3 separate regions of the Homo sapiens genome follow, and all the other regions are linked to region 2. The links come from fine-mapping of genetic effects on gene expression. A gene starts in region 2. Each other region holds a variant in brackets. All regions are shown on one strand. Distances are between the middles of the regions.

The links. PIP is the estimated chance that this variant, and not a neighbour inherited with it, causes the effect.
Region 1: its variant is fine-mapped to the expression of NCOA7 in whole blood (INTERVAL, PIP above 0.99). The same link has a PIP of 0.9 or more in monocytes and monocytes after interferon gamma.
Region 3: its variant is fine-mapped to the expression of NCOA7 in monocytes (TOPMed, PIP above 0.99).

The regions. Positions count from the first base shown.
Region 1 is chr6:125,809,413-125,819,775 of GRCh38, forward strand. It overlaps NCOA7 (nuclear receptor coactivator 7), which reads left to right. Exons shown (of 16, transcript NM_181782.5): 2 at 5,879-5,992. The coding sequence starts at 5,943. NCOA7-AS1 (NCOA7 antisense RNA 1) reads right to left here and starts at 9,446. Exons shown (of 3, transcript NR_126386.1): 1 at 9,398-9,446. RefSeq lists an enhancer at 8,671-9,172. The variant C/G (reference allele first, on the strand shown) is at 5,335.
Region 2 is chr6:125,785,582-125,795,944 of GRCh38, forward strand. It overlaps NCOA7 (nuclear receptor coactivator 7), which reads left to right and starts at 5,379. Exons shown (of 16, transcript NM_181782.5): 1 at 5,379-5,486. RefSeq lists silencers at 4,112-4,211, 4,802-5,641 and enhancers at 4,665-5,165, 5,166-5,666, 5,862-5,961.
Region 3 is chr6:125,837,569-125,847,931 of GRCh38, forward strand. The region is part of intron 2 of NCOA7 (nuclear receptor coactivator 7); the gene reads left to right. Among named protein-coding and RNA genes, the nearest start is that of NCOA7-AS1, 24 kb to the left of the region's middle. The variant C/T (reference allele first, on the strand shown) is at 4,823.

The sequences.
Region 1 (10,363 bases), 24 kb after region 2:
CCTCAAGCCTTCCACCTGCTTCAGCCTCCCAAAGTGCTGGGAATATAGGCATGAGCCACTGCGTCTGGGTACCCTTGTAAGTTTGTGGCACACGTTTGTATCTGGTTCTGCGTCCTTCCCAGGTTTCTCTACTGTTACAGGGAGTGTTCAAATTTCTGACCTTGTGTAACATTGAAATTTGAATATTTTTGCTTTGTTTAGATGACAGTGTGGCTTTGAGAGACTGAACACCTGTCATATTTTGGTATAAATATAACTATTTTCTAGGAGGAAATGCCTGCATAGAAAGGTCCATTTTGATCTGTTCCTTACGTGACCAAACACAGTGTGACCAAGCCTCAATGTGTACTCCTGACATCATTTCATTTGTATATTAAGAAACATGTTGTTGGGAAAACAGCTGATGGGCCTCATGGATATACTGCTGTTTTTCTAGTCCTGACTTGTTATACTTGAATATTCAAGGAACTGCAGTGTGTTGGAGGTGAATCCAAAAAGCCATGCTTTGCTATGTGGGTCCACAGCTGTGTGACCCACAGCTGACAGGCTGAGAGGTATTAATTAATTTCCTGAATTCAACAGCACTAGCTGTGGTACGGCAGTTATTTAAATCCAGTCTGGTGTACACTCCAGTGTCTTTCAATAACCTTTGGAGCCAGAAAGCATTTGGGGATGAGCTAGAAAAAGTAGTCCGGAGTCAACAACATCCAGTGCTGCAGCACAGAATTTGCAAGTTAAGACACATGTACCTAGCCACTGGGACAGGGAGGTCATTGAGGACCTCCAGCTGTGTGACCCACAGCTGTGTGGGTCAGTTTGGTGTAGTTAAGGGGTCTCTGCTGGTTCTGTTCTTTTAAATGGTGCCATGTGTACAAACAAGGAACACTTTTCTGATGATTCAAAAAATACTTTGTCTTCATCACAGCTCTTTTGAGGTAAGGATTTTTATGTGCTATTTTTATTTGAATAATGAACTGGATTTAAGTTTAATTGACTATCCTGATTTAAGATTGCAAAAAAAAATATTTAGATGGAAGATTCATCTTGTGCTTTCTCGTGAAATTCTTTTTGGTCTGCAATACACCATAAATGCAGGAGACTCTTAGAAGTCAGCATTTAGATGAGTCTAGAGTGTATTGAATGAAGGAAAGTCAACATTAAATGAATGAAGGGCTTTTAAGAAGCCCATTATGACCACTTATAATGGAAAATGTAGTTCCCATTAGAGACTGATTTAAGGAGCTCTGGTTCTTCACTGAAGCATGAAGGCTGCAGTGTGGTGTTCTGTGCAAATCATTTTTATAGCATTCTCTACTGAGCTCCTTCTGGTTAATCTGTTGGTGTGTCTAAACCTGTAAGAACTGCATCTATCATGTTTAGGGAATACAAAAATTTCCAGAAACTTAAACCAAAGATTAGCATATTTTTCATTTACCTAATAGGATATTGAAAAATAAAAAAAGCCTTACTGGTTGTAATCAGACACAGCAGCACCAGATGTCAACTATTGGATCATTTAATCTTTTTCTCTTGTGCATATTTTCATTAATATTTTTCTACTTGAACCAAATATTAGTTTCTGGCTCATCTTGCAGTATAAAAATTTTCCAATTAGATTGCTGTAACTTAATTTTTATTCATGACTGGAAATTTAATAGAAATCATTGCTTTTGTAACATGTAGGAGATGAACTTTAAAATAAACCACCTGACCCAGGGCAGGGCAGAGAGCCTAGGATTCTGATCTTTCCTGGAGTCTGAGGGAGGCTGGCATGAGACTCCATCCTCCATCCCTAAGTAATTCTTAATTTGGGAGGAATTTTTGGATTTGTATTGGTCTGCCATATAATTGACGTTATCCCCAGTCCTGGATTAATTTACCTCCTTGCTTAGCTTTTATATGGATTTTCTGCCTACTTATGTGCCAGTTATTTAGGGAAGTATAGTAAAAGTGAAACTTGGTGTTATTTGACTTGAAGGAATTTATGGTTGGGGCGAGGAGACTAATTGAAATGCTGTTGTCACACAGTATATGATTAAGTGCCTTGCAGTAAGTTATAGGTGATATATGAAATAAGCTCTTTAGGGGAGAGGAGCGCACACAAGTGGTCAGGGAAGGCTTTGAAGTAGAATTGGGCCTTGTCAGAAGGAGGAGCCTAGCAAGGTTGCCTCGTGCCTGAGGAAAGAGTGAGGATAAAGGTGCAGAGTTGGGGAGACGCCCAGGGGGTTCAAACCACAGTGTGAAACTGAGCTCATGAGAGTTAGACACTCAGCCGCCATCTTTCCTTTTTCTTCTTTCTCCTTGCACTCGAATTCTTGAATGAGTACTAACTACCCCAACTCATGGTAGCATGGCTTCCACTCCCAATACGTCACTAATGCAGTCCCGTTGGAGGTCCTCAATGACCTCCCTGTCCCAGTGGCTAGGTACATGTGCCTTAACTTGCGAATTCTGTGCTGCAGCATTGGATGTTGTTGACTCCGGACTACTTTTTCTAGCTCATCTCCAAATGCTTTCTGGCTCCAAAGGTTATTGAAAGACACTGGAGTGTATACCAGACTGGATTTAAATTGCTGCCGCACCACAGCTAGTGCTGTTGAATTAAGGAAATTAATTAGTACCTCTCAGCATCAGTTTAATGGAAATAAGGACATCTAAATCATAGTGTGGTTGAAAGATAAAAAGATAACATAGGGATAATATGTTGAAGTAAATGGCTGTTGGTAGGCAGGCATCAAGATTAGTTCCCTTTCCGTACCTGGTAGCCATGCTTTCCTTGCCTGAGTGTGCCTAGCCCCTTTCACTTCTATCCCTTTGCTCTGGCATTCCTACTTTCTGGAATTGAAATCCTAACCACTTTACCCATTGAAATCCTAACCACTCTGAAAGGTTTATCACCTCAAGCAGAATTGAACTTCACATCTTTTGGATTCTTACTTAGTATTATTCATTGGACAGCCCCAAGTTACTACCCTACAGTTTAGTTATCTGCACAGTCATATTTTCCTGACTGGATGGAAAACTCTTTGAGGGTGAAGCCCAAGTCAGGGATGTGAAGATAAACTAGTAAGAGCTGAGACTGTGTACTCCCATGTTTCTGTACAGGGCTGAATGAATAGTTGTCAGGCTTCCAAGGTGATCTCATCATCATATTGTTTTTTCTCCTTTTCTTCCTAACCACAAGCATATGCTGATAATTTCTAATTCCTTTCCTCTAGCCTTCACTGCCCTTCTGTGCTTTCAGTGTAATCAAACGTCTGGTGAATGTCTCCAACTCCACTATCCCATAGCCGTCTCAAAGGCACAATGTCCACAACCGATTTCTTACCTCCTTCTGCTCCCCTGTCCTACATGCAGCCTGCCCTTTTCATGTATATTGTACTAGATCTTCGGTGCCGTAACCCACGCAGTTCCTGAAGCAGAAACTTGGAGGACATCCTTCATTCCTTACTTTCCTTGTTATCTACACTGCATGACTCATCAAATGTCAACTCATCAGTCTCCTAAGTATTTCTTGAGTCCATCCCTCCTCTTTCTATGTCAACTACTGCTGCCTAGTTTTGGGTGCTCCTCCCTCAATTAGTTTGACTGTAATTTCTTTTTAATGAATCTACTTCACCCTGTCCTTAAATCCTCTCACGTCAATCCTCTACCTCTGCCGTCTGATTATGCTACACTCCCTCATGGAGAACCCTCTGGTGGCGCCCTTCCATGTACCTTGGGGATGAGAAAATTAGTTTTATCTCATGGACCAGCTCTGATGGATTTGGTAATGGCTCTGCAAATGCTGCCGCTGGGTTCAGCATGAGCAATTGATGGCCTCTGACAAGGTGCAGTGAAGGGGGTGGGCTGCACATAGCCAGCTAGGATTAAGTCCAAGCTCCTTAGAGCAGCATACAAGGCTTTCCGTGACCCAGATCCTGCCCATGTCTTCATCCTCAGCTCACTTTACCCTGGAACAGAAGGGAACAATTTTGTCTTCTTGCTTTTGTTCAATTGAAACCTGCTTGCTCGTACCCTTTACCTGGGAAATGCAATTTTTTTTTTTTTTTTTTTTAGACGGAGTTTTGCTCTTGTTGCCCAGGCTGGAGTGCAATGGAGTGGTCTCGGCTCACTGCAACCTCCGCCTCCCAGGTTCAAATGATTCTCCTGCCTCAGCCTCCCAAGTGCTGGGATTACAGGCACCTGCCACCACGCCCGGCTAATTTTTGTATTTTTAGAGAGATGGGGTTTCACTATGTTGGCCAGGCTGGTCCCGAACTCCTGACCTCAGGTGATCCACCCACCTCGGCCTCCCAAAGTGCTGGGATTACAGGTGTGAGCCCCTGCGCCTGGCCGGAAATCCATTCTTAACCTACAACCTTAGTGTGTGCTCAGGATACCTGGGGTGGGCCTTGCATAGTGTTAAGTGTTATTTGTTTTTAATTGGCAAATAGAAATTATATATATGTTTTTTTAATGATATTTTGAAAATATACATTAGAAAATGGCTAAATTTAGCTAATTAAGTATTCCTGAGGTCTATTTTTCAGCAGTACATATCACATTGTCTTGAAATCCTAAGTGTCTCTCCTGAAAGACAATATATACTGTTAGAGCAAATATCATGTCTTTATCTTTGACCTCTGGGACTTATCACACTCCCTTTCATGTAGTATGTATTGTGGATTAATTTGTTTATTGAATTGAAATGAATTAGTAAATAATTTTGATTGTGAATACACTTTGCTTTATTTATTTATATTTACTAATTTTTTTTTGAGACAGAGTCTCCCTTTGTTACCCAGGCTGGAGTGCGGTGGTGCCATCTTGGCTCACTGCAACCTCTGCCTCCTGAGTTCAAGCGATTCTCGCGCCTCAACCTCCGGAGTAGCTGGGACTGCAGGCGTGCACCACCATGCCTGTCTAATTTTTGGTATTTTTGGTAGAGATGTGGTTTCACCCTGTTGGCCAGGCCGGTCTCAAACTACCAATCTCAAGTGTTCTGCCTGCCTCGGCCTCCCAAAGTGCTGGGATTACAGGTGTGAGCCACCGCACAGCCTGCTTTTTTTGATTTAAATTTGATAGGTGAACAAACTATTGCTTCAGGGTGAAAGGACAAATTTTAGGAATGTTAGTGCTCTGCAGAAATTTAGACTGGTGAATCACTGAATAAGTAGACAATTGGAAATTTTTGAGCAGGGGAGTGGCATGATAAAAGTGGTATTTGAGGAAGCTTGATCTGGAGACAACCTTTTTTTATATTATAGGCTTAAGCCACTGCTGGCAAGCGTGGGTGAGGGTCGCAGGGGTGGAGAAGAGGGAGACGCAAGGGTTTAAAGCCATGCTGAGGAA[C/G]AGCTTCCTGTGTCTTTGTACTTTCATTTCCACATTTGCTCAAGTGGGATGTACTTGCTGGCATGTTTCCGAAAATAAAATAGAGTGCTGAAGTTATTTTTATTTTTTTAAAAAAACATTCTTGTAAAACACCTAAGTGAGCCATTTTACATAATTATCTGAGACATATGCCTTATTAATTGCTTGGGAAGAGTGATTATGAGTTCAATTTTTTTTTAAATAATTAGCATCTACATAGTTAGGCTACAATCTTCCAAAGTCAGTGAAGGTTTTTATTTTGGCATGTTTTAAAATAGTTGTTAGTTGTGAGGAAAATACTGCAGTTTGGTTTTCCATCAGGTTTTGCTTTATAGTTTAACATCTCCATTCTGATTGTAGTTTCTCCCATGGACATTTGCATTTCATATTTGACTCATGTGACTGTTTCCTGGTTAAAGTTTATTTTTCATTTGTTTTAGTCCATGTAGTTCTACTCCATTTTATTTTTCACATTGGCCAGTGTAAACTTTTAAGTTTACAGTTGCTTTGTTATCTTTTCTTACAGGGTTACGACTCACTGATTAAAAAGAGGGACTTTTTCAAATACTTTGCACTTTTGATTGTGTATTATGGATACCAAGGAAGAGAAGAAGGAACGGAAACAAAGTTATTTTGCTCGGTAAGCATTCATTTTACAAAATTGTTATCAGTACTTTAAAGAAATATTTGAGGGGACTTTGTCCTCAAGTATTACTTCGCATTTTGTGTTTTGTGCTTGTTCATAAATAGAGCAGGTAACCAGGAGAAGTAAACTATACTTTGCTTCATCCATTTTATTCATATTAGAGGAGTGTAACATTTGGTTCTTCTCTTTCTAGCTTTGACACTTCTCTCAGGCCAGTGTTGCTCAGCGAATCCAGCTGTCATGCTCTGACCTGCAAATTGCTCCAAATCCCATGTTTAGCAACCTACCTTGAATTTTAAATCCTAAGTGCTTTGTTCCTACTGTTCTGTAGCTTAATAGGTTGGACTATAACTGAAAATCTCTGACACATTTAAAGCTTATCACCTTGTGGGGAGTCTATTACTAAGAAATATTTTTGTAGGTAGGTGAAATGGGTGAAATTATATTTTTGAATCAGAGTCATTTTTAAGGCTGGAACTTGTCCAACATAAATAAATTTGTTGATATCTGAATAGAAGTAATGTAGTATATGATTGGTTACCATTTACAGATTTAAATGTCTATGTGGCACTCACTAAACATAATAAAATGAATTATATGCTAAACATTTGTAAAACATTTTGATAAGCCAGAATGTTTTCAGACTCAGAGAACATAGGCTTAAAAACATTATGTTTCTCCTAAATTGAAATACATGTTAAGAACTGAATTTAGCCTCATTCCATCCCCAGTCCCCAGGCTGTGCTCATTAGAGATGCATTTATTATTTTCTAAACATGAGCCTTGGAGCCAAAACCAAAGTTTGTTGTTGATGTTTTTATCTAGTAATTAAGCTAGATTTTAGGTTGATAATGGGAAAAGGACAGAAACAATTTAAGGACCTACTATGTACTGAGTGTTTTACTTATTATTTTAATTGCCTTCAAAATAAATCTATGACATCGGTTAATTTATCTCCATTTTACCAGTGATGCAACTAAGACTCAGAAAATATTTTGTCCATTTCATGCAGCATAAGAGTCAGTATTAAACATAAGGCCATCTCCAAAAGGCATGCTCCAGTTAGGAATAGTAAATCATGAATAAGGTTTTGGGGAAGCACAAGTTAAACTACCAATTGTAGTAAAATATTTTCTGCTATTATGACTACAGAGAGTAACCAGATTAGGGAAGGAAGACATCAGGCATCTAATGGATGAGGCACCAGAAAGATAGGATATTTAGAATAAATAAGATCTCCAAAGTTTTTATTTTGAGATAATTTTAGATTCACATGTAGTTAGTTGTAAGGAGTAATAGATACCCTGTATTCTTTATCCATAGTACAGTATCACAACTAGGAAATTCATATTGATACAATCCACCAGCCTTATTCAGAGCATTCATTGTATGTGTGTTTGTGTGTATTTAGTTCCATGCAGTTATATCACATGTAGATTTCTGTGGTCACCATCAGTCAAGATACAGAACAGTTGCATTAAAAGGATCCCACATGCTACCTTTTTGTATCCCTACTCACTCCTTCCATCTGCCTGCCTCCTCTGACAACCACTATAATTTGTCATTTCAAGAATACTAGGTGAATGGAATCATATAGTATGTAACCTTTGGCATTTAGCTTTTTCTTCCCTTCAGCATTACTCCCTTGACATCCCTCAAAGCTGTTGCATGTATCGATAGTTTGTTCCTTTTTATTGCACAGTAGCATTCCATAGTATGGATGAATCACAGCTTTTTAGTCATTTACCCATTGAAGGGCATTTAGGTTGTTTCCAGTTTGGGCTATTTATGAACAAAGATGCTAGATGCTACAATCATTTATGTACAAGTTTTTGTATGAGCATGAGTTTTCATTTCCCTGAGATAATTGTCTGAGAGTGCAATTGCTGGGTCAAAAGATAAGTGTATTTTTAGTTTTATAAAAAAGTGCAATACTCTTTTCTGGAATGGTTGTAACATTTGACATTCCCATCAGCAAAGTCTGAGTAATCCAGTTTGTCTGCATTGTCATTTGGTGGTGTCAATATTTTTTATTTTTATCTTAGCTATTCTGATAAGTATGTAGTGATATCTCATTATGGTTTTAATTTGTATTTCCTTAATGGTTAGTGAAGTTTAACATTTTCATGTGCTTATTATTAGCCATAGTGTATCTTCTTTAGTGGCATCTCCTTTCCTATCTTTTGCCCATTTTCTAATTGAATTGTTTAGGTTTTTACTGTTGAATTGTACACATTCTAGTCTTTTGTTGGATATGTGATTTGCAAATATTTTCTCCCGGACTGTAGTTTGTCTTTTCATCCAGTTAACAGAGTTGCAGAGCAAAAGGTTTTAATTTTGATGTGGTTCAATTTATCAGTTTCTCCTTTTATGAATTGTGCTTTTGGTCTGAATTCTAAGATCTCTTTGCCTAGCTGTATGTTCTGAAGATTCTCTCCTGTTTTTCTTTTCTGAAAATTTTATAGCATTATGTTTTATATTTAAGTCTGTGATCCATTTTGAATTTATTTGTGGATAAGATATGAGTTTAGGTCAAAATGGTGGTCATGCTTCTCCTCCCCTTCCTCCCCGTCTCCCTTCCTCACCTCCTCCCTTTCTTCCTGCTCCTCTTCCTGCTCCTCTTCCTCCTCTTCTTCCTCCTCCCCCTTCCCGCTTCTCCCCCTTCCTTCTTTCTCCCACCTCCTCCTTCCTCCTCCTCCTTACTTTCTTCTTCTTTCTTTTCTTTCTTCTTCACTTGCCCTACATAGTGATTTTAAGAGCTATAGTGCCTTCTCAGCCTGAATCCAAAGTGATTCCTGTAGTAAAGGTAACTGCCGGTTCATGAACAACCTGCTCAATGTTAACCTCTTCTTGTTCCTAAAATGTAGAGTCAGGGGAGCCCCTGAAACTGAGAATACAAACCAAAACTGTTCTGGAAGAGCAGCACAGTTTTTTCAACTCAGAAATGTAAAATTGTCTTGCTTATCATGACCTCTTCTGAAAAGTATTCTAAAAATGAAACAAAAAACGTATCCTAAAATGCTGAAATGTGATCTTGGGAGCATAGGGACAGTGGCACAAGGATGAAATCAGTGATGCTCTTAAGACAGTAAGACAACATGATTTGTAACTAGGAAATGAGAGAGATGGAGAGAGGAGAATGGAGAGAAGAGGGGGTAGGAGCAGGGAGAGAGAGAAAGAGACAGAGAGAGAAACACTGACTGACAAACCTGTAGTTTAGCTCTTACAATGCAGTGGAAGCCAGAAATGGTCAAGCTATTAAAAGCAAAAGGCAAACCAAAGAGAAAAGAACCCCCTTCAGCCTATAATCAGAAAAGAGCCATCCAAAGTTATACATCTTTTCAAATGCCTTCTGACTTAACTGTGGAATTACCATGTGGAACTAGCAACAGAACTTACTTGAAAGCTGGTTTCTGACAATGTAGAGCAGAGTTCTCTGGAGCAGCGTACTTAAGGGCAGTCCAAGCAAGATCTCTGGAGAGAAGGATAAAATGTCAGGCCAAGGGTGAGGCCAAACTGATGCAATCTCAGTTTTCTCTAAACTAAATTATACCACCTTACATAAATCTCAACTGGTGTTCTGAGGAAGTCAAAAGGAAGATTTACCCTGATGCTGTGCCTGCTGCCACAATTACATATCTGAAACCCTAAAAACTGCTTTTTAGCCTGCTTCCCCCTTCCACCTAGGAAAAACTAGGAACACCTAGTTTTTCCTCCTGAGTAGTTAAATAGCCAATGTTTTCTTTGTGTGCTATCTTATCATGTGGTTTCATAATCGTTGTGTGACTGTGTTTGATAAATAGTCCTTTGCCAAACCTGTTTTGTTGACGTTTCGCTCTTTAACATCAAAATAGAGTTTAAAATACCCTATTTTAATAATTTTGGATTGAAATTAGTGATTTGAGGGTCACCCAGTCTTTCCTTTCTTATAATTTATCTTGAAATATGCCTGTGTAACTCTAAATAGAGGGGTGGATTAATACTGCTACTAGATAGAGTAATTCTGGATAAGACCTGATGAATTTTTTGGATTTTCTGACCCTGGTCCAACTGGTTTTCAGGTGCTTCAGGATAGTTTTATAACAGTTGTTAAATCTAGATTGAATGATTTGTGAAACTTTTTCACAAATGGTTTTGCAAATAATTTATATATGCAAAATTAGTATATGTCTATATTAATTTCTTGATCCCTGACAGGTCTTGAAAACCAAATGAAAAACTGAATTACTAAAGCAAATTATACTTTCTGTACTATTTGTACTGTGTACAATTTATGCTATCCTCTGGGGTGACTATCATGTGTCATTTGTTACACCCCTGCTGACTCTTCCTTCCCCTTGTAGTTAGAATGCAAAATTTTCTTTA
Region 2 (10,363 bases):
ACATAATGTCACTTTTTTAGGGATTCATTTCAAAATTTTAAATTATATTTTAGCACCAATGTTGTAGCAGCTTATTTGAATATGTTTTTCAGAAAGTGTAAAAACTATGTAATGAATTCTCAAGCTACTGAACAGACTATTCGTAGAAGAAATAAGACAACAGGAAATTATTCAAAAGCAGATATTTTTAAATTAGCTGTGAATAAAAGAAAAGGAAAAATTTATTGGGCTAACTCTAAATAATCAGCCATAAGTATGACATGATGACAGCTATGCGGACAACAATCCATGTCTATATACAGCAATATTTCTTTCTCAGTACACTCTGGTAGACGCCACAAAGACGCCACAAAAAGGTGATTTCTAACTCCTCTTCAGATTTATAACAAGCCAAATGAAACACTGAACATAGGTCTATCCACAAAAGGACACTTACATTTTTCTCAAAACTCAAGATATTATCATAATTAACCAGTAGACAAATGACCCCAGTTTGTGAAAATGAGCCACTGCCTTAAATACTATTAAATAATAAACTCTCTTCTGCCTCTTTAGTTGCAGGATGGCTACTCGTATCCCTCCACACATGATCATCAGTATTTGCCTCCTGTGTCCCAACCGGCCTGAGTCAAGTAAGTGTATGAAAAGAGGTGTTTCTCTCTGCGCTAGAGAAAGAAGGATAGGTTCACTAAAGAGTGAATTTTCTTGGTGCTAGTAGCCTAAGCTCATCACTTAATGCATAAAACTCCTCTCCCACAGCTTTTGAGAGACCTTCCAAAGACATTTCAATATTTTCAATAGCTCCAAGGTCATTACTTAACCAGTTTTGAAACTACACTCAAAACTTACAAATTTTGTTAAAGAGTAAGCAACTCCCAAATTCTCCTAAGTGACTTCATCCTGTTATTTATACATCACATATGTACATATACATTCCTATAATCAAGTAATTCTAAATTTGGGACAAAATATCATACACAATAATCATTGTCTTTTTTTTTTTTTTTTTTTTTGAGATGAAGTCCGGCTCCGTCGCCCAGGCTGGAGTGCATAAGCGCGATCTGAGCGCAGCGCAACCTCTCCCTCTCGGGTTCAAGTGATTCTCCTGCCTCAGCCTCCCAAGTAGGTGGGATACAGGCATGTGCCACCATACCCAGCTAAGTTTTGTATTTTTAGTAGAGACAGAGTTTCATCGTGTTGGCCAGGCTTGTCTCAAACTCCTGACCTCAAGTGATCCACCCTCCTCGGCCTCCCAAAGTGCTGGGATTACAGGTGTGAAAATAGGCCAGGCGCAGGGGCTCATGTCTGTAGTCCCAGCACTTTGGCAGACTGAGGCAGATGGATTGCTTGAGCCTAGGAGTTTGGGACCAGCCTGGGCAACATGGCGAAACTCCATCTCTACAAAAAATACAAAAATTAGCCGGGTGTGGTGGTACATGACTGTAGTCCCAGCTACTTGGGAGGCTGAGGTGGGAAGATCAATGGAGCTGGGAGTTGGAGGTTGCACTCTAGCCTGGGTGACCTAATGAGACCCTGTCTGGAAGAAAAAAAAAAAAAAACAGAAAAGAAAATACAGTAGAGCTCTAGATCAACCAGAGACTCAGGAGCCTTTCATTTGGGCAATGTTACAGCAATATTTGCCAATATTTTTAGAATTCTAGTTTCATGAGACATTACTAGTGTTGTATTCAAAAACAGAAATACTAATCATGCTTCTTCATTACAAGAATTGTCTTTAGATAGATAGGTAAGAAAAATACCGAACACATTTGCAGGATTGCCACTGTTTGGCAATGTTTCTCTAAGCCCGCCTACCTTAGCCCTCTAGAAAATCACTTGGGAGAAATCCTGTTGCCTGAACCCAGAGATCCAGCTGCCTCCCACAGGCTCAGCGAAACAAACAAATGGCGGAGTGAAGTGATCCCTCTCTTCTTCCTTTAAGAGAGGAAGGGATCTCTGCTTCTCTTATCTACTCCAAAGTCTCATCATACAAAGGTTGTTTATTCCTGCAAAAGTTAAATGACAAATCCACCTAAATTATCCTCCAATGGCCCATACCCTTCAACAGAGAAAGGCCAGTTTTCATATTTAAAGGTGGCCCTCACAGCCATAAAATCAGTGTGGTATTATATTTTTTCATTAATTCAGCATTTACCAAGTAACTTCCGCAGCCAAGAACAGTGAAAAGTGTTAGGGATACCATTTTTAAAAACTTTATCATAATAAAGTATATTATTCTAGTAATACCTTTGATTGATGGCCACATTCTAGACTTTAAGAACCACTTGGGATTATCTCCTTTAATTCCTATATCCACCCTATAAAGTTGGTACTGTTACCATTCTTTATGGATAAAGCATATCCTTTACGGATAAAGCAACTGAGGTTAAGTAGTTTACCCAAGGTCAGCACGTGGTGGAGCTGTAGTCTGAAGCCAGAGCCTGAATTCTTAAAGATTACCATGTTCTTAAGAAGTACACTTTCTACTGAGGTTTGATCTGTAGTATACTAAGATTTCCCAAATTATTTCATGTATTATATCTTATCTCCCAATTAAAATTTGACCTTCTATTTAGGGCAGCACTGTTCAAAAGGATTTTCTGCAATAATGAAAATGTTCTAGTTTGTGCTATCCAAAAGCACAGTCTAGCCATAATTTAAATTTAAACGGCTACAAGTAGCTAAGGCATACAGTACTGGACAACACATGCAAGGAAGAGTTTCATTTCTTCCGATTTATCTATAAAGCCAAGGCTTAGGTAAATCAGTTAATGGAAAGGAACAAGTGAAGAATCTTTAGGAGGAGTTTGTACTCCCTTAGCTGGGGAGCAGAAATCTTTATTATATCAGGACTTTCAGTATAATAAAAATGTTATAAGAAGCATATGATACAGCATGCAGTCCTAGAGGAGTTCATAAAGATGGATTCTTACATTCCTTGCAATATCTTTGGAAGACCTTTTTTTTTTTTTTGAGATGGAGTTTCGCTCTGTCACCAGGCTGGAGTGCAGTGGTGCAATCTCCGCTCGCTGCAACCTCTGCATCCCGGTTTCTAGTGAATCTCCTGCCTCAGCCTCCCAAGTAGCTGGGACTACAGGACCCACCACACCCAGCTAATTTTTTTTTTTTTTTTTGTATTTTTAGTAGAGATGCGGTTTCACCATGTTGGCCAGGATGGTCTCGATCTCTTGACCTCGTGATCCGCCCGCCTCGGCCTCCCAAAGTGCTGGGATTACAAGCGTGAGCCACTGCGCCTGGCCAGAAGACTGACGTTTTATAATTGATGGTCACAACTTTAAAAATTCATACTCAGTTATAGGTTTTTGTCTAATAAAAACATCACTGCTTAATTTATTTACAAAACATGGAGTCCATAGAGAGAAAAACAACAGGGGCCTCTTGATAGTAAAAGGATGAGAAACAGGGAAAACTTGTAAGTCAATGGACACTTCCTTCAGAAACTACATTCAAAACTTAAAAATTTTGTTAAAGAGTAAGCAACTGCCAAATTCTCCTAAGTGACTTCAACGTGTTACTTATACATCAGATATGTACATACATATTCCTATAATCAAGTAATTCTAAGTTTGGGAAAATATCATAAATAATAATAGTTATCTTTTGAAAATAAAGTGGGGCTCTAGATCAACCAGTGTCAGGAAGCAGCCAAGTCACACCCCACTGGGTGCTTCCTGGACAAGCGCAGTGCAGCTCCCACAGGGCCTCACACCCAACCTTCAATTTGCTTAAAAGAACTATCTCAAAAAATCTTAGCTATTTAGTCACAATTTGTCCTTGCCAGGGAACATGTTTTTCTTTTGCCTGATTTTCAATAACCTTAGATTGCAAAATCATAAAAGCACTCATCAAAGAACTGTGAGAGCAGCTCAGCTTCCCTGGAGATCTCAAACCATGTTCCTTTGATACAATGCAATCAGCTCTTTATACTTTAGGAACCTAATTTTCCCTTACTAAATGCTAAACAATTTACAAATAACACAATGGCTACAGAAAAAAAAAATCCAACATCTTTACATTCAAATCCCAAAGATATAAACCTGACGTCTAAATTAATACGTGCTTAGTGCAAAACTGGGCAATTATTCCACATTTGCAAGACAGTATAACATGACCACCTGCTGCTGAAATGCCAAAGCCACCACTGTTAACGCTTTGCTCCGCCTTCCAGAGAGGTTATTACAGCTTAAGCTGCGTCAACAACCCAGAGGAGGCTGCTATCTAGTTTATCTGTGTGGAAGGCCTGTAACACACTGTTAACAGAGTAGTTGCAGGCCCTTCCTTGGGATATTTTTCTGCGTATAAGAGTGAATGAACTCCACGGCCAGATCCTCCTAGTCATGTTGCAGTGCTGGTCATGGGACCGCAGAGGGAACAGCACCCAACTGGGGATGGGGAGCTCACAGGCACAGGCCCCGCAGCTGATGCAAACCTTCCCCCTCCAAGGTTCTCTCGAGTCTCTGCCAAGAGTCGGCTGGAGGGCCCAACTGCTATGTTCTTATTGCTGTAATGACTGCAATTTGGCAGCATCCAGGATGGTGTACCGGGAACGGGAGGGGGAAGGAGATGGTGGGCCCCTCTGTTAAACGCAACGCCAGAAGGGACACAGGATGAATTTATTGTGGCCATCGGTCCTGAGCTGGAAGGAAAGTCAAAGGGCTTTAAAGCTGGGGAAAAGCTCTAACTCCTGCTCTGCTGTCAAAGCCTTACTTCCCACGAAGAGTAGGGGCCAGGCGGGCCAACTGTAAGGGGGAAGCGGCCCGGGGTGAGGTAAGAGGACCCTCCTAGGTGCCGCTGCCAGGCGGCGGTTCGCTGGGGCAGCAAGGCGCCCGCACTCGGGAGGCGCCACAAAGGGCCGAGGCCTGCGGAGGCCGCACGCGCAGCTCTCCGGGGCGGAGCCGCCGGGATCGCGGCAGCGGAGGCTGCAGCAGCCGCGGGTAGCCGGGGTGCCCAGCCTCCCAGCTCGGAGGTCGCGGGGGGCGGGGAGGATGCCGCAACTGCAGTCCGAGCGGCAGAGCCCGGCGCGAGCTCCCAGGCCCCCGCAACCGCTGTGAGGCGCAGCGCGCGCCACTGGCCGGGAGGAGCTAGAGGCGGGCGTCTGCACAGCGTCGCGCCACCCGTGACTGCCCGCCTTCAGCCGGGCCCGGGACCCCGTAGCGGCCCATGCCCTGACGGGGGGCGCAGCTGCGGGGCTGGCGAGGCGTCGCGCGTGGGAAGAGGCCTAAGACACCCCGACTGCGGCGGCTGCGCACACCCGATCCGGACGCGGGGCCCCGCGGGCGCGCGCCTCGGAGCTCCCGCCTCCTCCTCTTGCTCCTCCTCGGCGTACGGTCCTCCCCTGACCCCTCCTTCCACCCGCCGAGAGGATGCGCTCCCCGGCGCCCAGCAGCAGAGGCCACCGCTCCCAGAAATGCATGCGACCGATCCCCTTCTCCCGGACCCCAGGAGCCGGCGCCCCCGCCCTGTAGGTAGGTGGTGAGGCGGGGCCCAGCCCTCGCCGCCGCCCGCCGCTGATGCTGCCGCCGAGAGGCCGCGAGCAGGGTCCAGGACCGGCCAAACTTGCCTCCCGCCGGGGGCTCGGTGGAGCGCTCGGAGGTGTGCTAATGGCGCTGGGCGTAGCCCCCTGTGAACCTGAAAACCTCTGCTTGAGCTCGGGAGGCCGAGCGGGGGCGAAGGAGAGATTGACCCTTCCCCGCCCACCCCTTGGGGGGCTCGTGGGGGTGCGCGCCAGTACGAGAGTGGGGAGGACAGGTTGGCATGGGGCTTATTTGGGGAGAAGACCGTTGGATTTTCAGCAGCTCAGGTGGAAATATGTCACTGTGTTTTTCCGGCTGGATTAGCAGATGCGTTCTTCCCATCTTTCTAGCCAAAACATGTAGACAGGCAAAGGGTTATTAGTGGCATGTAGAAGTCGCTGTGGATTTTTGTGTATTTCAGAGCTAGCTAGTTGGTATATAAAATCGATGGGGCAAACCCTTACCGTCAACACGTTAGGGCCAATTTAGAGAAGGTCCTTCTAGAAGTCAGATTATTCTGGAGATCGATGAGGCTGGGATATTGTTGTGCTGAGTATTTAGGAGCCTCTGCTTACGTGAAGGGATGTGTTTTAAGAGTGGCAACTTTGATACAGGTGTCGGGAGTTGAGATTCTGCTGGAAAGATGTACCGGGTCAGCCAGCAGAGGCAGCCTTGTGCCCAGCCTAACTTCCAACTCGATGTTATGCTCTGTATTTCTCAGAAACTGGTTATGTATTAATGCTTTTTTTCTCCTCTAGGTGTAAAGTTTATACATCAGAGCTTTTGGCAAGATTCCCTCTTCCCAGACTATCATTTTTTATTTTATATTCAGCAATAAGGCTTAAAGTTTTGAAAAATGCATCACTGTAAGCTCCAATTTTATAGTCACTTAGGTATAGAGATTTGGAGAAGTGACTCAGTATAAGCTCAAATAGGACAGAATCTTGAATCTGTTTTTTTTTAAATCCTGTAATCTTCTGCATCTTATGCAGAATAAGTACCCATTAGTTATTTGTTGAATGAATGAACTGTGTTTCAAGCTTTCATCTAAAAACCACAATTTAGAATCACAGAATTGTTCTGTAGCCGGTGAAATTTAATTGAATTTCAAAAATTGCCTCTTTGTATAAATAGGCAAACTCAGTTATTTTAACATTTATATTTCAATTCTGACATCTTTAGGACCATATGCTATCTTTCTGTAATATGTCATCAAGGTTATGAGGTAATTCTCCCCAACTCTTAAGTTCATTTCATGTCTAAGCTTGCAAAATTTCCAGTCTCACTGGTAATCATGCCAACTTCAACTGTGCTCTCAAACACAATTTAAAAAGTAAAAGTCGTGTTTTAAAGAAAATTGTAAGTTACGCCAGAGGAAACAATGATTTGGTTAATAAGTGATGTATTCACTTATTTTAGAGTTGAGTTTTTCAGGTTTGATCTAATTATCATGTCTTTTATCACAGGCAAAAGTAGAAATAAAACATGTAGAAGTGTCTGTGATTCTTAAATGATTCAAAATGTGTGATATAGATACACAATTTAAACTGTTTTCTCCTCGGTATAGAAACACATCAGTTTCCAAATTTGACAGCCAGGGGATTGTGAAATGAGGGTTTGCAAGATACAGTGTCTTCCTGCTTTAAAATGTTATATCATTTTGAAAAAAAAAAAGAAAAACAAGGTTAACTGCATCAAACTTTATTTGCTTTATTTTTACACTATGACATTTTCTGTTTTGATTTCATCTTTTTTCCATCACATGAATTTCATGAGTCAGTGTGAACTTCTTTCAGTCTCTGCTTAACAATATTATCTGGGCATGCTCCCAGGTTTTCTTTCTGACATTTTAATGCATCTTTACCATCTTCACTTCATATTACTCAAATGACTTATTTTTACACAATATGGTAGGCCATACTTTATTACTATTGCTTCTCCAACCTACTTATTTTCTTCCTAGATGGATAAGGAAATAAAACTTTCCTATAAAAGTTAATAAGACTGCAGGAACCAACAGTGGGAGGGAACTTATGAAAAAAATTAATTTGTTATGATTTATTAAAACAAAGCCAAAATTCCCTCCTGTAATAAAGATAATTACATTTTACACTTCTTAAATTTGTAACCCAGGGTATTGAGCAATTAATTTACCTGGCTCTTCCTTGCACACTTTAAGCTTTTCAAAAAAGCCCTCCCCTTTGGTTACAGTAAGCTCTCTTTACCTTGTTACTTATAAGCACTTATTTGTTCATTTTACAAGTAGGAGTTGAGCCTTTAACTGCTCAGTTTAACTGCTATTACTTTGGCTTTGGAATCACAGTCAAATAAAAGCTCTAATCTCAGATTTGAAGAGGTATTTTTCTCTTCTGTGTGTCCTACAACCAAATGCGCAGTGCCTCTGGGATTGGTTGACTCACTTTTGGGTCCTACCTCCTGATCCCCCAGCACTCCGCCCCCACAAGCACCACCAGAATGCAATCCAAGACCTGGATTTCCTCTCTTTATCTTCCTAAAGGCTGTATTTTAGAAACCTCTATTCCTTTCTTGCTAAATGCCATTTACTATTGTTTTTAAAATCCCAGCCCATAATTTTTTGTTTGTTTAAATTCAACAGGATCCACTCAATTCACTTGTGCTAAAATCAGAATTGTTGATTGCAGAAAAAAATATACAGAAGTAAATTTGTATGACCTTGAATTTCAGATATAGTGAATACATAAAGAGTGATTGTTGTCTACTGGTCTCCCCTCAACAGTGATACAAAATGCATTTGTTTCTGTACATGCCAGAGAATATGAATTTTCTGTTGCTAAATTTGATCAGAAGCTTAATTGAGAGAAATGATGTTTACGGGGGGTTGGCTGAACAAAGGCCATGACGTCAACCTATTCCCTTCCAATACTAGCTGTTAGACCAGAAGTCTAGCCAGATCTTCAGAAGCTGTACTTTGGTACCTTGTTTTGCATCCTTAACACCCCCCCATATGCCCACACTGAGGGATTTTATTAATACAGTCAGAGGAAACTTACTATTATGTTACTTTCGAAATGTGGTTATGATCATGGTACTTTCTATAGTTTCTGTTTGAAGACTCATGCAAGAAATTCCATTTAACTTTAAATGCCAAAGAAAAGCTTTACTTACCCTGAACAACTTGTGTGTGTGTGTTTGTGTGTGTTCTTTTCATCATGCAAAATGAGAATCAAATCATTGATTATATTTCCCTTTCTAACTTGGCAACTAGGAAATGAACAAATTTGCAACTCAATTTTAATAATCATATAAAAATTCATAACCTAATATCAATATTTTATCTTTTCCTATGGTCTTGAGCTTCTGTTCTACCTTGTTTTTCTTGATTCTGATGTTTATCTAATTATACTTTTCCATTTGATTGAATTATATTCTTTTAAGATGACTCATATCCTTTGTGGAACAAGGCAGATTATAAAACATAAAACCAAATAAATGAAGCCATTGCACAATTGATCTCTGGACACAGTATGTTTTTGATGAACAAGTTTAATGGGTTACATTAAATGTTTTGAACAAGAATTGCAAATTTAGTACATTTGAACTTAGCCAAATGGAAAACAATGTTACATAGTTTTACAAAACTTTTTTTTAAACTCTTACATTTATATTCACTCATTACTAATTTGAAATTAATAAAGCCATTCAATTTAAGTCAATTATATTTGGAGTACCTGCCTTAAACGCTATATAGGTTGAACAGGAGTTTCAATAGAATAAAGTCATTTTTAGCTGAAGGGCTAGCCTAACTTAGCATAACACTCACCAGAGTGAATCGACAATCTGACCTTCGCGTCAGTGATTCATGTGATTTATCCTTGTTTTAATAAATCAGAGTCTTCTCTGAGCCTCTTTTATTTACCATGAAATTTAAAAGATTGAGCTCCTGGAGTTAATTCTTCATACTGATGTTTTGACACCTAATTGTTAAGTTGGTTGAATTTACCCAGGTAACTCATTATTTACATCGACATGATAAGTTAGGCTTGATATATTTATCACCACAGTAAGCAGAAAGATTGGCCTTTCTCAAGGGTCAGTCATTGGTACAGTCTGGTAGCCTTTGGCATAAAAATGATCTGAATTCAAAAGTGCAACTTAAAACATAAGAGGGGGTTTGGAGGGGGACCTAGGCAGGTTTTTACATAGAGGCATCTCATTCTGATAACCTTCATGTCTTTTTTTAAATTTATTTTTAGAATAGGTAGTATCCTCATGGTTCAAAAGGTACGCATGGCTCTAGAGTGAAAGTACTCCCTCTCATCCTCATTCCCCTGTCACCCATTTCACTAATCCACAGGTAACCAGTGTTAGTTAACTGAGAATCTTCTAGTGACATTTTATGCATATGCAAGCAAATATGAACATGGAAGCTGCTCATTTTCTCTCCTAACCTGTCTCTGATTCACTCTGTTCTATTCCCACTGCCTCTGTTTGGCTCCTTAGATGCCTTGGAGTGTTGTCTGCATTCTGCCTTGCTCTGCATTTCAAGCTGTCCCCATTTCAGCAGGCTGTCCTTCTAAACTTCCCCCTTCAGACCCTGTAAAACATTTCCATCATACACAGGAAGGAATCTGCACATCTTACCCTGGTCTCTTGGACCCTGAGAGATTCATCTCCTGTCTGTATCCCTCCTTGTCATGCATTTTACCCACAGTCATTCTTAGCTAAGTCCCCTTGACCCATTTCATAGACCCATAAAAAACCTGATGAAAGTTCAAGTTGTCATCATGCACAGCAAATACCATTTGCCAACATATCCTTGTTTGTGGACCCCCAAGTTAAACATTTGT
Region 3 (10,363 bases), 52 kb after region 2:
ATCTCCTCATGTCCTTACCTTTTCCCCTTCTTTCCTTTTAGGTTTATTTTCTTCTATTTCTTCTCTCACTATATTTCTTTTTCCACTTCTCCCCCTAATTCATTTCCCACACCTGTGTTCATAAGCTCAGAACCAGGAAAAGGAAACAAACCCAGAGTTCCCTTAGGAGGCAGCATGAGGAAGGAGGCTGAGATCATCCATATGCTATTATATTTTCTCATCATTGCACTTATTAAAGAAATTACGATATACTATTTAAAAATGGAAAGTCCAGACCAGGGAACATATAAATTGGCATGAAAAATGGGACAGTAAATTGCATGCTGCTCTTAGTTGTATGACTGATGCAGAACTACTTCATGGTCGGTGTTAAAAAGGGACTCCTTCCCATATTTCTTCCTCTTAATGAGTAGAGCACACGCCAGTCCCTTTGATAACAAAGCCCTTCCTAGTCCTTAACTCTCTAGGGGCTAAGGAAAAACTTCCCCTTCACCCTCTGAAGCTTCACTGAAAAATGAACTCATAAAAGGCAGATTAATAAGAGAGAAGCATACAATTTTTTTTTAACATTCATGAGGAGAACCCAAGTGTTTGGGAGACCATGAAGTGTTTACCCAAGCCTACAATGGGGTGCAGAAGCTTCTATACCATCTTGAGGTCACGGAAAGAATGGGGCTCAGGGCATGGCCAAAAATCAAGATTACAGTGGCAAGATAGATTATGGGGAAGGAAAGAAGAGGAGGAGGCCTGGCTTGTGAAGGTAGTCTTGTTATACAGATGAAACCTGATAGGTGGCAGCCATCAGAGAGGATAGGTGGTAAATGCTTCTTTCAGATCTTTAAAGGTGTCCGACTCTCAGTTAAATCTTTCCTAGATCAGGACAAGGGAAGACCTGGCTGGATTGATGCAAAACTCCCCCATGAAAGACAGCTTTGCAGGGGTACTTCTGTTTGCAAGCCCTCTGAACAGCCATCTCAAAACATGTCAAAGAAGCATATTCTGGAGTGAAATGCTTTTATTTCCTTCACTAGAGGTGTTCTCTGGTTCTCCAACACCAGTTGAGTGTCCAACAATTCCATTCAATTTTGACACTAACTTCTCAGAGTTAGCCTCAGACTCCACAGATTTAAGAGCTCTGTTGTAAGTCCCAGGTCCCCAGACCACCTGTACTTTTGTCCACCTTGACTGCAAATTTGGGGTTTCCCATGACCGCCTCCTCAGGTTTGAGAGTTCACTAGAACTGCGCAGGGGACTCAGGAAAACACTTTTCTTACACTTAACCAGTTTATTATAAAGGATATAACTCAGGAACAGCCCAATGGAAGAGAGGCAGAGGGCAAGGTATGGGGGACTCAGGGGTGGTAGGTTGGGGGATTCAGGGGTGGTGCCAACAAGCTTCCATGCCCTCTCTGGGTGCACCACCTTCGCAGACGCATAGTGTGTTCATCACCCTGGAAACTTTCAGAACTTCGACATTTAAGGGTTTTTCTTGGAGGTTCATTACCTATGCATGATTGATTAAATCATTAGCCCTTGGTGATTTTTGTTTGTTTGTTTGTTTGTTTTTGAGACAGAGTATCACTCTGTCACCCAGGCTAGAGTGCAGTGGAGCAATCTCAGCTCACTGCAACCTCTGCCTCCCGGGTTCAAGCAATTCTCCTGCCTCAGCCTCCCAAGTAGCTGGGACTGCAGGTGCATGCCACCACGCCTGGATAATTTTTGTATTTTTAGTAGAGATGGGGTTTCACCATTTTGGCTAGGCTGGTCTTGAACTCCTGATTCAAGTAATCAGTCCAACCTCAGCCTCACAAAGTGCTGGGATTACAAGAGTCAGCCACTGCGCGAGGCCTAGGCCTTAGTGATTTAACTCTATCTGCTGTCCCCTCCCCTCTTGAGAAGTGGACTGTCGGGTGGGGCTGAAAGTTCCAACCTTTTAATCCTGGCTGGATCTTTCTGGTGGCTAGACCCCATCTAGAAGCTCTCGAGGCACCTCCCTCCCTCCGCAGCTTTGAGTCATCTCATGAGAATACAAAAGACGCTCTTTATCACTCACGAGATTCCAGTGTTTTAGGAAGTCTGTGCCAGGAACCTGGGGACAAAGACCAAATACAGTAATGTTCCACATAAGCCACTGGCCTCATTTATGATGGTGGTTCCATAAGATTATGATGGGGCTAACAAATTCTATCATCCAGTAACATTGTCACCGTCATAGTGCAACACATTACTCAGTGATGCTGGTGTAAACAAACCCACTGTACTGCCAGCTGTGGAAAAGCATAGTACATACAATTATTTACGGTACATAATACTTGATAATGATGATAAATGACTGTGTTACTGGTTTATGTATTTACTACACTAGTTATTATTATTTTAGAGTGTTTTCTGATTATTAAAAAAAAAAAGCTAAACAGAACAGCCTCAGGCAGGTCTTTCAGGAGGTGTTCCAGAAAAAGGCATTGTTATCATAGGAGAGGATACTTCCCTGTGTGTTATTGCCCCTGAGAACTTCCAGTGGGACAGGATGTGGAGGTGGAAGACAATGACGTTGATGTTCCTGACCCTGTGTAGACCCTCTGTGTTTATGTCTTAGCTTTTGACAAGTTTAAAAAGTAAAACAAAAAAGTTAAAAATTTTAGAAATAGAAAAAAGCTTATAGAATAAGCATATAAAGAAAATATTTTTGTATGCTATACAATGTGTTTATATTTTTAGCTAAATATCAAAAAGTTATTTAAAAACTGATAAAGTAAAAAAGTTATAGTAAGCTAAGGTAGTTTATTATTGAATGAGGGAAAAAATTATATAAATTTAGTGCAGCCTAAGTATACAGTGTTTAGAAAGTCTGCAGTAGAGCACAGTAAGCACATTTACTCACCACTCACTCTCTGACTCCCCAAGAGCAGCAACCATACATGGTAAGGACCCTATACAGGTATATCATTTTTTCTTTTCTTTTTGAGACAGGGTCTTGCTCTGTTGCCCCAGATGGAGTGCAGTGGCATGATCATAGCTCACTGTAGCCTCAAACCTCCCAGGCTCAGGTGGTCCTCCCACCACAGCCTTCTGAGTAGCTGGAACTACTCAGGATGCCACCATGCCTGGCTAAATAAAAAAAAAAGAAAATTGTAGAGACAGGGTCTTTCTAGGCTGGTCTTGAAACTCCTGGGCTCAAGCAGTTCTTCTGCTTTGGCCTCCCAAAGTGCTGGGATTACAGGCTTGAGTCATCGTGCCTGGACACCATTTTTTAATACCATATTTTTATTTTACCTTTTATGGTTTTTTTTGTTTGGTTGGTTTTTTTTTTTTTTTTTTTTTTTTTTTTTTTTTTTTTTTTTTGAGACAGAGTCTCAATCTGTCACCCAGGCTGGAGTGCAGTGGCATGAACTTGGCTCACTGCAACCTCTGCCACCCAGGTTCAAATGATTCTCCTGCCTGAGCCTCCCGAGTAGCTGGGATTACAGGCACCTGCCACTGTGCCCAGCTAATTTTTGTAGTTTTAGTAGAGACAGGATTTCACTTTGTTGGCCAGGCTGGTCTTGAACTCCTGACCTAGAGATCCACTGCCTCGGCTTCCCAAAGTGCTGGGATTACAGGTGTGAGCCACCGCGCCTGGCCTACCTTTTATGTTTTTACACCTGTTTAGATACACAAATACTTACTGGTTACAACTGCCTACAGGATTCAGTACAGTAACATGCTGTACAGTTTTGTAGCCTAGTAGCAATGGGTTCTACCATATAGCCTAGGTGTGTCATAGGCTATTCTATGTGGGTTTGTAGTAAGTATATTCTATAATGTTTGTATAATGACAAAATCACCTAATGACACGTTTCTCAGAATGTATCCCTGTCGTTTAGCAAGGCATGATTATATTTATTTATTTTTTGTTATACCACAACCTGTGGTTGGTTAAAATCAAACTGGTAACTTGAGAGGTGGCCATTGTTGGATTTTTTTTTAAGAGCGTGATCAAGACCGTCTTGTGATTGGATGGTCATTGTCATGGAAATGCACCCTCAGAAAGATGAAAGCAAGGCCAAGATTTTTCTTCAAAATCTATTTTGGGTTTGCCTTTACATGTGAATGAATTATCCAGACTCAGAGTTCTGCACTAACTTTAGAAGGAAAAAAATTTAGAGTAGGTACTACCAGTCTACCACCCCAGAAATTCTGTTTTTGAGCAACATCACTTCCCAAGCAGTAGCCAGCATGTAGCAATTGGAAAAAATACCTCTAAGATGTTGAATGGACATGTTGGATGTAAACCAACTAAATTGAGAGCATCTGCCAAAATAAGTTTTAAAATTTCATACCTGATATTAGATTATTCTTTCTGAAAGTACCTGTAATGACAGAATGATTTATGAGGTCACTTCTAGTTTATGACAATGAAAGTATATTATCATAAAAGGGTACGTATGTCTAAAATTATTCAAAAGCAATGTCAGATTAATATAAGAGTTTATTTTTTAAAGTTGAGAGGAGAGAGAAGTTAAGCTAGAACATATTCTAATTTTATGCTACTTATAAGTGTTTTCTGTCATCAGGCCATTTCTGCTGATCATAAACTATGTTTCCCTTACGAGGCTTTCAGTAGAGTATTAGTTTATATACTAAACTGATTCGTTTCAGGATTCTGTATTTTAGCCCTTATTTCCCTCAATATTTCTACAGTTTAAGTAGTTAACGGGAAAGTCAGTTAAAATTGGATGACAGAGTCGCTGGCATCATTGAGTTTGTGCTTGCTTGAGATTTTTCAAGATAGTATGCTTTGTGTTTGACTAAAATGTCTTCAAGAAAACAACATTTTGCTGTT[C/T]TTCCAGAATTATGTCACTGCAATATATTGCTGTTGTAGCAAAATATATGTGTCACGAAAATATATGCCAATGCTGCTTTCTATAAGATTCATTGAGTAGTCAGAGAATACAGTTCATTTTGAGTAAAAAGCATTTCTAAAAAAATAATTTAAAAAGGTTTCCTTTACTAAGGAATTCTAGCAAAATAAAAAAATATTTTGGGAGACTTTCTTGGCTTTGTAAGGGATTATAAACAGCTTTGTGTAAGGGATTATAAACAATGATGAACTGATTCAATGCAGATCTAAGTAATTAGATATGAAAATGAGACTTAACTCTTTAGAAATCCTACCTGTTAAAATTTTCCTTCTAATACTCCCACTTCCAAGAGGCTGTTTTGAAGTCATCCACCATAAATAAAAAATTCACATCTGTAATATTCTAATTGCAGATTTCAGGGTAGTCTTGAATAAACCTTTTGCTTTTGCTTTAGAAATATGTTTATTGCTACTCACTGCCAGTAGTGAATTTTTTCAAGTATCATAGACAATACATTGAATAGCCATAGTAATGATTTAGACATAGACACTAAGACACTAATGTGATATGATGCTCAGTTTGCAATTATTTGTAACATAAAAGCTAAGTTAGCCAGTGTGGTAGGCTGAATAGTGACCCCCAAAGATAGCCAGTTCCTAATCCCTGGTACCTGAGAATGTTACCTTTTATGGCCAAAGAGATCTTGCAGATGTGATTAAGGGCCTTGATATAGGGACATTAACTTGGATTGTCTGAATGGGTCCTATATGCAATCCTAAGTGTCCATATAAGAGGGAGGTTTGACTGCAGAGAAAGCAGTGTGCCATGCAGCTGGCTTTGAAAAATGGAGGAAGGGGCTACCAGTAATATAGCTCTAGAAGCTGGAAAAAGCAAGAAAAGAACCTCTAATGGGGAGGATGGCCCTGTGGACGCCTTGATTTCAGCCTGGTGAGTCTGATTTTAGACTTCTGACCTCCAGAACTGTAAGAGAATAAATGTGTGTTAAGTTACCAAGTGTGTGGTAATTTGGTACAGCAGCCATAGGGAATTAATACATCCAGTCAATTTAACTATGTTAAATAAGCTACGTGCATAATATCAATGTAAAGCAAAAGAGAATAAACAACTTCCAAATACTTTCTTTAAATTTCTCTTTGCCAAATTTGATTAACTTCTGAGTTGCGGTGTTTGTCAGCTTATTCTTGGTTGATAAGCAGTAAAATTCCTAATATTTAAATATATTTGTAGGCCTTTTTGTTGACTTATAGCACAACACAATTCTCTTATTACCTGGAGTGAGTTCCCTTTTCTGGTTCCCTTCCTTAATTTATAGATGAGATATATATTACCATTGTCTGCACCATCAATTTCTCCAAACCATTTTTAGGCCGTGACTCAGCATTCTGACTTCTAGAAAAGGGAACCAAATTCTCACATGGGGCAATGTGTACATTCAACAAAGGGCTGTTTTGTTTTATAAATAATACAATGTAGACATTCTACACAGTGTGCATCCATTTTGCAGCAGTGTCATTTTGATCCTGGTACTGGGGGATGCTTATAAGGTTTTCTGAAATGTCCCACCCCAAGGCTTCTCTGAGAGAGAATTTGGTTTTGGCCATTTCTGGCCCCCACACTTTGGTTACCGGGGTCTTCTAAGACCTGCTGACCCACCACTGTTTTAACAGTACAAGGAAATCCTAGAAAAGGAAAATTGAATTGTTGTGGTTTCCCCTGATTGGCATTCTGTTTATCTGTCTTTATTAGAATGTGGTTGTTCTTTGAGGCTAGGGGAAATGCTGTTGTGTGTATGTGTACCCATCTGAAGGATATATTGCTAGTTATTGAACACAAAGCCAAAGAATCTCTTTTCCTAACTGTATTGGTTCTTTGAAGCCGGAGTATTTTCGTTTTAACTGATGAATTTCAGTTTTAGCAGTGGGAAGAATCTCATTATCACGATTAGAAAAAAGGAAAAAAAGAATGCATGTCTCCATGGGTTACACTAGAATCAGGAACATCCACAGGTTTTTCCAGTGATTACTCTTAAATCTTTTGTTTTTATTTGGCCAGAATTCCAAGAGAAAATTTTCTTCAAGTGAGTTGTTGTTTTAACTGTTTTTCTCCCTTTGCCTTTAAGTTTGACTTAATTTGGCATATAATGGCTCATAAGTGGGGATTTTCAGTGGAAATGGAAAACTATGAAATGACAAAATGAAATGGAGTTCAAAGAGTGATGTTCTTCTAGAAATAATAAGTGGCTTTGTATTGATGACTAAATTCATAGAGTTAAATACAATTAATATTTATGTAGAGTGAGAAAAAGGACATGAACATATATTAATACCTGGCATTTGTCACATACCTTCTTTTTTGTGTTAAATATGTTGTGCTTTATATGTTCTCTCATTTACTTGGATTCTTTGAAATCCCCAAGTAAGAATAACAGCAGCAGCACAACAAATTAGTAACTTTTGTTTATTAAGCTCTTCCTGGAAACCAGGCACAGGTTGTGTTTAATAGTAAAGTAAGCTTTCTCTGTACCATTTGCTTTAATCACCATTAAAAACCCATTGGAGGCTATTATTTTTATGTCAAGGACAACAAACCTGAGGCTTAGATTTGGTAACTCGCCAAAGGATGTGCATCCAAAGTACAAGACGATTCAAACACAAACGTTTCTGCCCAAAGACTGAGCTCGTTCCATTGTCAGAGGTGGCAGAAGTCAGAATTAGACGACCAGGAAAAAACAGCCTAGGCCCTGAAGGTCAGAACAATGCAATGACAAGGCTGCAGCCAGAACAGCCAAGAAAAGAACCAAGAGAAGGTCCCTGGAGGGAGGCAGACCAGCTCTATCTGATTTAAAAAAAAAGTGATGTGGGATTGCAGTCCAGCAATTTACTAAGCTAGCTGGACTCAGGAGAAAGAATGAACCACTAAACAAGAGGTAGCAAAATGTTGCCATAGCTGCAGATATTTAATTTTGTTGTTGTTTGTTAACCTTATAATTACAAAAGTAATATATGCTTACCGTACAAAAGATTCAACACCACCACATTACATACCTATAAAGTAAAAGTTCTTGGCTGGGCACGGTGGCTCATGCCTGTAATCCCAGCATTTTGGGAGGCTGATGTGGGCAGATCACGAGCTCAGGAAGTAGAGACCATCCTGGTCAACATGGTGAAACCCCATCTCTACTAAAAATACAAAAATTAGCTGGGCATGGTGGTGCTGCATGCCTGCAATCCCAGCTACTCAGCAGGAGAATCGTGTGAACCAGGGAGTCGGAGGTTGCAGTGAGCCAAGATCGCGCCACTGCCCTCCAGCCTGGTGACAGAGCAAGACTCTGTCTCAAAAAAACAAAAAAGTGCAAGTTCTTCTCTCCCCACTCATTGACCAACCGTTTTCTCATACATCCACCGAACCTGTATATATCCATATCTATGTGTATATTTGGTCTTGAGGGATTTTGCTTTTTTTGTTGTTGTTTTTTCCACAAAAATGGAGTCATGCTGCAATACTGTTTTACATCTTTTTTTCATGAAATAATGCTATAGCTACATATTTTATATTAGTACTCTATTTCCCTACAGAGGCGATTTTAAGGAGAAAGTTTGTATGAAAGAAGACTTTCATGGGTCTGTTCTCATGGCTGGTCAATTTTGATATTTTCTAGTTTTCTTCCTGGAGCTATTAGCCCCAAATTATAGAGCAGTGTTTTGTTGTTGTTCTTGGTTTGGTTTTGGTTGTTTTTTTGTTTGTTTTTATTTTTGCTTTTAATAGCCTTTGTAGAGGAATGGGCTTCTGACTGTCTTGGCTTCTGGACTTTTCCAGGGCTAGAAATTCTGCAGTGGAAGGAAAATGTAATCAAATGTGAGACTTAGAAAAAACATAGGGAAGTGCAAGACCCTTGGGATGGTTTAGTTTGGATATAAAAAAGAAAAAAAAATTTTTTTTTTTTTTTTTTAATCAAAACAACTTTAACACATTTCCTACTCTTCTCCGCCAAGGGCAAACTATTAGAGCCAGACAGGACCTTGAAAATCATGTTAGCCTCTTGCTTTTGTTTACTTAGAAGTCCCAGGGGGTTTATCATATTTCCAATGCAGGTTGCAGGGCTGATTACAGAGAAAGCCAAGCCCAGAACCCAAATCTGTGTTCCAGTCTTTCTGTGAGTGCACAATCCATTGAAGCCCACTAAATTTTCAGGCCCCCACATAGTTTGTAGAATTTTCAGAGTCCACTGGATTTTATTTTAAAGTTGACGTTTACATATATGCCATAGCCACATTTAGAGGGGCTTCGGGGAGGCCCTGTGGCAGTTGGCTGTAACCTAGGCTTGTGAATTCCCGCTCCACAACTAAACTGTGCCCTGTGACCTTGGGAAATGGCCCTAGTTTTTCTCAGCCTTCCTTTTCTTATCTGTAAAATAGAGATAAAACTCCCTACCTCATTGGGCTTTTGTGAGGATAGGCTAATATTTGTGAAGTACATAGCATGGTGCCTGGTTCCTTAGTCAACTTAGTAGTTCCTGTTAGAAGAAAGCTGTTTAAAGCTTGTCATAAGTTTTTGAAAAGTAAAATTCAGTTTAAAAAATTTGACAATATTTGTGTGTTAGATTATTATAGTAGGAGAGAGATTTCAAAGACTACTTAAAATATTTTTAATATGTAATTGTACATGGTATAAAATTCAAAATGTACAAATGAGAACATAATAAAAAGTATTTGTGTGTGTGTGTATGTACCCTTGTACACATATTTTCTGCATATACTTGTTACATTTTAAATACTGTATCTTTAGCCTTCTCTCTAATCTCTTGCAAATAGGACTAACTATAGCTCTAGATCAATATTGTCTAGTACTTTCTGTGATGCTGGAAGTATTCTGTATTGTGTGTTGTCCAATAGAGTAACCACTAGGACATGAGTCTAGAAATGTATTTCTTACAAGTGAATAATTTTAAGTTCAATTTTAACTAAATGTAGTAACTATCGGTGACTGGCTGGTGGCTACCACATTGAGCAATGCCATACAAGGTATTTACGTCTTTTTCAAAAGTGTGCATTTTTCAAAAACACATGGATCCCAAATTTTAAAATTAAGAACAGAGTCATATATAACTGTGAATTTAATACTAATTAAAGCAGTCTGTAGTTCAGTACATTTTAAATTATGTGTGGCTAATATGTAGAAAGCTGAAACTGGATCCCTTCCTTACACCTTATACAAAAATTAATTCAAGGTGGATTAAAGACTTAAATGTCAGACCTAAAACCATAAAAACCCTAGAAGAAAACCTAGGCAATGCCATTCAGGACAGAGGCATGGGCAAGGACTTCATGTCTAAAACACCAAAAGCAATGGCAACAAAAGCCAAAATTGACAAATGGGATCTAATTAAACTAAAGAGCTTCTGCACAGCAAAAGAAACTATCATCAGAGTGAACAGGAAACCTACAGAATGGGAGAAAAATTTTGCAATCTACCCATCTGACAAAGGGCTAATATCCAGAATC